2 separate regions of the Homo sapiens genome follow, and region 1 is linked to region 2. A link means that fine-mapping ties the variant in region 2 to the expression of a gene that starts in the linked region. Tissue or cell type: whole blood. Region 2 holds a variant in brackets; the other region holds the start of a gene. All regions are shown on one strand. Distances are between the middles of the regions.

Region 1 (2,654 bases), 24 kb before region 2:
TCTCTTTGCTTATTCAGTTCTTTGTCTTTTTGTCTGATTTCTGTATTTTACCCTGGAGACTTTAGGCCCTATTTGAAGGAAATGGCCATGCTGTCTGGCTTCTTGATGAGTCCCAGTACCCAGCACAGAGCACAGTACACTGTAAGTGCATGGCGTGTATTTCTTGAATGAATGATTTCTTGACATTGAAATTTTTTTTAGCTTACTAGCTTAAGACATTTGGTGAATAGTGCATTTAAAGTATATAATTTTGTGTAGCTTAAAACGATACACAACCAAAAAACTGCAAGAAAACAAAGTGCAATGCTTGGAGAGAGGTTTAGTGAAAAGAATAAGGTGTGTGTTGGGGAGCAGGGACATAGGGTAGGGTTTTTTTTCTTGGATTTGACATTGTTGGGGCAAGTGGAAGAATAATCAACAATGTCTGAATCTTCACATTAACCAGGCATACACAAGCATCCAATGGCTGCTTGAACCTGAGTGTCTTTGCTGTGAATAAAACTGCCTGTGTTCTGAAGTCATGGACTTGAAAGGGACCTTAGTGATCGTCACATCCTATGCTCCACTTTATAGATGAAGAAACTGAGACCAGAAAAACGCAGTGATTCCCTGCTAGTAGGGCTGGGTCTAGAATTCAGGTCTGCTGACTCCCAGACGGTGTGGGAAGGGGCATTCGTTCCTTTAAAAATAAGCACTGCTGCTTTAATAACATCAGCACCTGTTGTTCCAGCTTCTGCAAGAGAGAAGCTATTAATTTCTCCTTCATCAAAGCTGAATTTCTGGTCTGTCTGAACCTTGTTTTCTTCCTGACTGCAGCTGTCTAAACCACTAAGGCCACATGTTGGACGGAGGCACTTTCCTGCTGGAATCCGATAAATCACCACACCCAAATATAGAAAGAAAAAGGGACACAGATCATCCACACCGTGGCCGAATGTGTGACATCTTTGCTGAACTCTCTCCGTTCCACCTTGTGGTGGAGGCCTCCAGTCCACCAAACACAGCCCTAGGCGTGTGAACCCTGCCACAAACATCGGTGCTCTTCCTGCACAGGGCCTGGGACCAACCGTGGCCAGGACATCAGCTGCTGGAAGCCGAGAGAGTTCATCTGAGTGGCGATTTTATGATCTGCAGAGTGGAAAGTAATCATAATCCCTTGAGAAGTTTGCAGAATCGAACCGAATGTTGAATGCCAAAGATCTTCACAAAGCAAGTTGAGTTTCTTCCGTTATTATTGTTATTTGTGTTAGCGAGGCCTGGATTGCTTAGGTTGGGTTTCCTCCCGCGCCTATTCCAGCAGGCAGACCCCGCCCTTGGCCACACCTTTCTCCTTGCCCGGGGTAGGAAAGTGAGGGGCTGCCCGGCGCCCGCGGGCGTCCCTGAGGTCGGGGGTGGGGGGGAGCCGCGCAGCGCGCATGCGCGCCGGGGAGCCGCCGGCCTCTATAAGAGCGCGGCTCAGCGCGGCAGCGAGCGGAGTCGGAGCTGGTCTGGCGCCGGGCGGGGCGAGGCGAGGCTGTGGGCGGCTGCTGCGCTCGGCTTCTCCCGTAGCCCGGAGGAAAGAAACTTCCGTGGGAGGCTTCCATCGGTGCGCACACCTCCCGAGGGCGAGGCAGCGACCGGGAGAGGGAGAGCCGGCCGGAGGCTGCCGGGCTCCTGTGGGACCGCGCTGCAGCCGGGGAGGCGGAGAAGGGGAACCGGGGCGAGCCGCCCGCCTGGATCCGCGCCCAGCAGCAGCCGCGGCCGCCGCCAGCTGGGCAGGCTCCCGGGACTGCGGCTGGGGGCGCGCAGGACCCTCGCCTGCGTCCTGGACGTTCCCGGGGTCAGGAGCGCTCCCTCGGCGACGTGCTGGGAAGATTGGCCGTCGGCCCCGCCGAGTGGAGCGTCGGGGCTGCACCCCCGTGGGCTGCCCGGGCGGCCCGGCCGGAGCCATGCGGACCAAGTTCGGGGCAGAGGAGGCTGAGCGCGGCCGGCTGCGTCACTTGCTGCCCAGAGCCTTGCGTGCACTGCCCGCCTTCGCCCCTTCTACCCGCCCGAGGAGGGAATAAAGGAGGGGAGACGGGCCCTGATTCGCGCGCGGGACCCTGAGGCTTAAACCCTGCGCAGAGCCCTGGCTCCAGGTCCGCGGCGGCGCGCCCAGCGGTCATTCGGCTCGAGTGAGCATCCCTTCGGGGATGCTCAGGGAGGGTCCGGTTGCCAGTGAAACCTCCAGAGGCTTCCGGACGACAGCCCCGGGGGCCTTCTGACTGCATCCCGAGATTTCCATCAGCGAGTGCAACTCATAAGGCAGTCCCTAAGGGGACCGGGCCACCGGCTGAGGACGGGGATGGCTTAGGAGCTCCTGGACCTAGGGCCCGGCGTCGTCGCCTCCTGGGCGTCGCGGCAGAGGGGAGTGGCCCGCGCGGAAAGCGCCGCGGGACAGTCAGTGACGAGGCCCGGGGGTCGCCGGGGCCACGACTTCTCGGAGACCGTCCTGCGCTCTCTGGAGACGCGCTGTCCGCGCCCAGGGTGGTGCCATGTGGGGCGCTCGCCGCTCGTCCGTCTCCTCATCCTGGAACGCCGCTTCGCTCCTGCAGCTGCTGCTGGCTGCGCTGCTGGCGGCGGGGGCGAGGGCCAGCGGCGAGTACTGCCACGGCTGGCTGGACGCGCAGGGCGTC
Region 2 (2,846 bases):
GCTTACATTACCACCTACACTGTAGGACATGATATCACATTACATTTTCCTTTACTGTCTGTCTCTCCCACTAGAATGTAAGCTCCATGAGGAAAGGGACTTTGGTTGGTTGGCCACTACCTCTCCAGTGTCTGGAAGTCAGCTTGTATTCACAAGAGCAGCACGTAAGAGCATGGCAGAGGCCCCAAAGCTGAAGCTCCCTCGGATGGTGAGATTCCAGATCGCTAGCAAGTCCGGCTTCCCATGTTCTAACTGCAAGGCCCCCTGCTCCCCTGCCTCTGCCCACCAGTTGAGGCCTCTCCTTGGGAACAGGAGCCTCAGCAATTTTAGAAGAAAGCCCCCTGGTTCTCAGACAAACATCCAGCTGGCTGTTCAGCTGGGACTGAAAAGGCCCAGAGCATTTTCCCTTTAGCACACACAGTTTCCAGAGAATGGGTTATCTCTTGTCTCCTAAAACAAGACTTGGGTTAAGCCCTTACATACCTGCCGTGGCACTTTTGGAGCTGCTTTGCCAAATTCTCAAAGTTAAAAGTGAATTTTTTTCTTTTGCATTTCTGTACAGTTGTTTACTTCATTTTTTCCCATAGAACTACTAGGTACGTATGCATGTGTGTACTCATGCACACAAATGCAAAAGCATCCTGTCTGTCTGAATAGTTTTCCCTCACTCACAAGGACAGGTGCTTCTGTGGAGCATCCCTTAGCTCTCTGCTGTGCATTACAGGGGGGTTTTTCATCATATAAATCGGGAAGTGAGATTGAATGAAGACATTTTCCAGCTAAAGTATTAAAAACATTGCTTGGAGGCAGTTTCTTGAATAAGGGCCTCCCAATCTCATTCTCTGCAACCACATGCAATTTATATGTAATACTGAAACAAATTCAAGGGCTTTTCCTGCAGCCATCTTTGTGAGTAATTTGCAGGCAGCTCCTCTTAAGGACACTGGGAAGGGAAAAAAAGTGAGCTTAACAGCTTTGTTTGTGGCTACTGGGCTGTTCTCTTTCAGCTCCTAACAGCTAGTCATACCCTCCATTCAAGGCCACTCGGGAAGCAACAACGACAAGCAACAACCATCTGGCCTCCCAGCTACAGGGCAAGATGTGTTAGGTTGGCGTAAGAGCCTCCCCCACCCCGCTTTTTTTTTTTTTGAGACGGAATCTTGCTCTGTCGCTTAGGCTGGAGT[G/C]CAGTGGCGCGATCTCAGCTCACTGCAACCTCCACCTCCTGGGTTCAAGCGATTCTTCTGCCTCAGCCTCCTGAGTAGCTGGGACTACAAGTATGTGCCACCACACCAGGCTAATTTTTGTATTTTTAGTAGAGACGGGGTTTCACCATATTGGCCAGGCTGGTCTCAAACTCCTGACCTTGTGATCTGCCTGCCTTGACCTCCCAAAGTGCTGGGATTACAGGTGTCAGCCACTGCGCCCTGCCAGGCATAAGAGCTTTTAATCATACACCACAGTTTTAAAAGTTGGGGGAAGGTCGGGTGCGGTGGCTCATCCCTATAATCCCAGCAGTTTGGGAGGCCGAGGCGGGCAGATCACGAGGTCAGAAGTTAGAGACCAGCCTGGCCAACATGGTGAAACCCCGTCTCTACTAAATATACAAAAATTAGCTGGGGGCAGTGGTGGTGCCTGTAGTCCCAGCTACTCAGGAGGCTGAGGCAGGAGAATCACTTGAACTCAAGAGGCAGAGGCTGCAGTAAGCAGAGATGGCGCCACTGCACTCCAGCCTGGGTGACAGAGTGAGACTCCATCTCAACAACAACAACAAAAATTGGGGGGAAAATCAGGAAGGGTTTCTCAGCAATTTAGAATATTTCAAATCAAAACCCATTTTTTTAGAGTAGAGGAGAGAGTACCTGTAGCATTAAATTTTGACAACTATCTAGTGACAGTGATATAGAAACTCCTGGGGCAGACAATTCAAATCCAAGGTTCAGGTCAACGCTGTTGCTTTAACGATTACCTGCGCACCCTTTCTTCAAATATCCATTGCTCTGGAATCTTAAGTCAACAACAGTTCATTGTAGAGAGAGACAAACAGCTGAAGATTGAAGATGGAGCTTTGAGACCAACCCTCAAGAATTTTAGAATTTTAAATCATCTTATTTACGTGCATGGCCTACTTTTAATAAATGAAAGCTTAATGCTTTTGAGCTGGACTGGATGTGCTTGGTGCTTGTAGCTTTAGTAGGTGGAAGGGTTTTATTTTTGTCCCCCTCTGGTAATCAAGTTCCAGAGCCTCATCTATAGCCCCAGTTAACATTATCTCCTTGGCATTCCAACCAGCACTGGAGAGTTCCCTCAAAAGACTCACGTGTGGGACAAAATGAGGTGGAAGATATCAGAGGCAGAGGAGCCCCACGTCACATGCCCTGTTGCTCTGCCATACATCCAGGGGTGTCTGATCTTCTGGCTTCCCTGGGCCACACTGGAAGAATTGTCGTGGGCTACACATCAAATACAGTAACACTGGCCAGGTGTGGTGGCTCGCGCCTGTAATCCCAGCACTTTGGGAGGCTGAGGTGGTTGGATTACTTGAGGCCAGGAGTTCAAGACCAGCCTGGCCAACATGGTGAAATCCTGTCTTTACTAAAATACAAAAAATTAGCCAGGTGTGGTGGCGGGCGCCTGTAATCCCAGCTACTCGGGAGGCTGAGGCAGGAGAATCACTTGAACCCGAGAGGCAGAGGTTGCAGTGAGCCAAGATCGTGCCACTGCACTCCAGCCTGGGCGACAAGAGTGAAACTCCGTGTAAAAAAAAAAATTCGTAATATTTTAACAAAGTTTATGAATTTGTGTTGGACTGCATTCAAAGCTGTCCTTGGCTGCAGGTTGGACAAGTT

The links. PIP is the estimated chance that this variant, and not a neighbour inherited with it, causes the effect.
Region 1: it holds the start of SHISA2, and the variant in region 2 is fine-mapped to the expression of SHISA2 in whole blood (TOPMed, PIP 0.96).

Annotation. Positions count from the first base shown.
Region 1 is chr13:26,050,835-26,053,488 of GRCh38, reverse strand. It overlaps SHISA2 (shisa family member 2), which reads left to right and starts at 1,473. Exons shown (of 2, transcript NM_001007538.2): 1 at 1,473-2,654. The coding sequence starts at 2,514. LINC00415 (long intergenic non-protein coding RNA 415) reads left to right here. Exons shown (of 2, transcript NR_146971.1): 2 at 817-1,213.
Region 2 is chr13:26,027,133-26,029,978 of GRCh38, reverse strand. No RefSeq gene overlaps it. Among named protein-coding and RNA genes, the nearest start is that of SHISA2, 23 kb to the left of the region's middle. The variant G/C (reference allele first, on the strand shown) is at 1,185.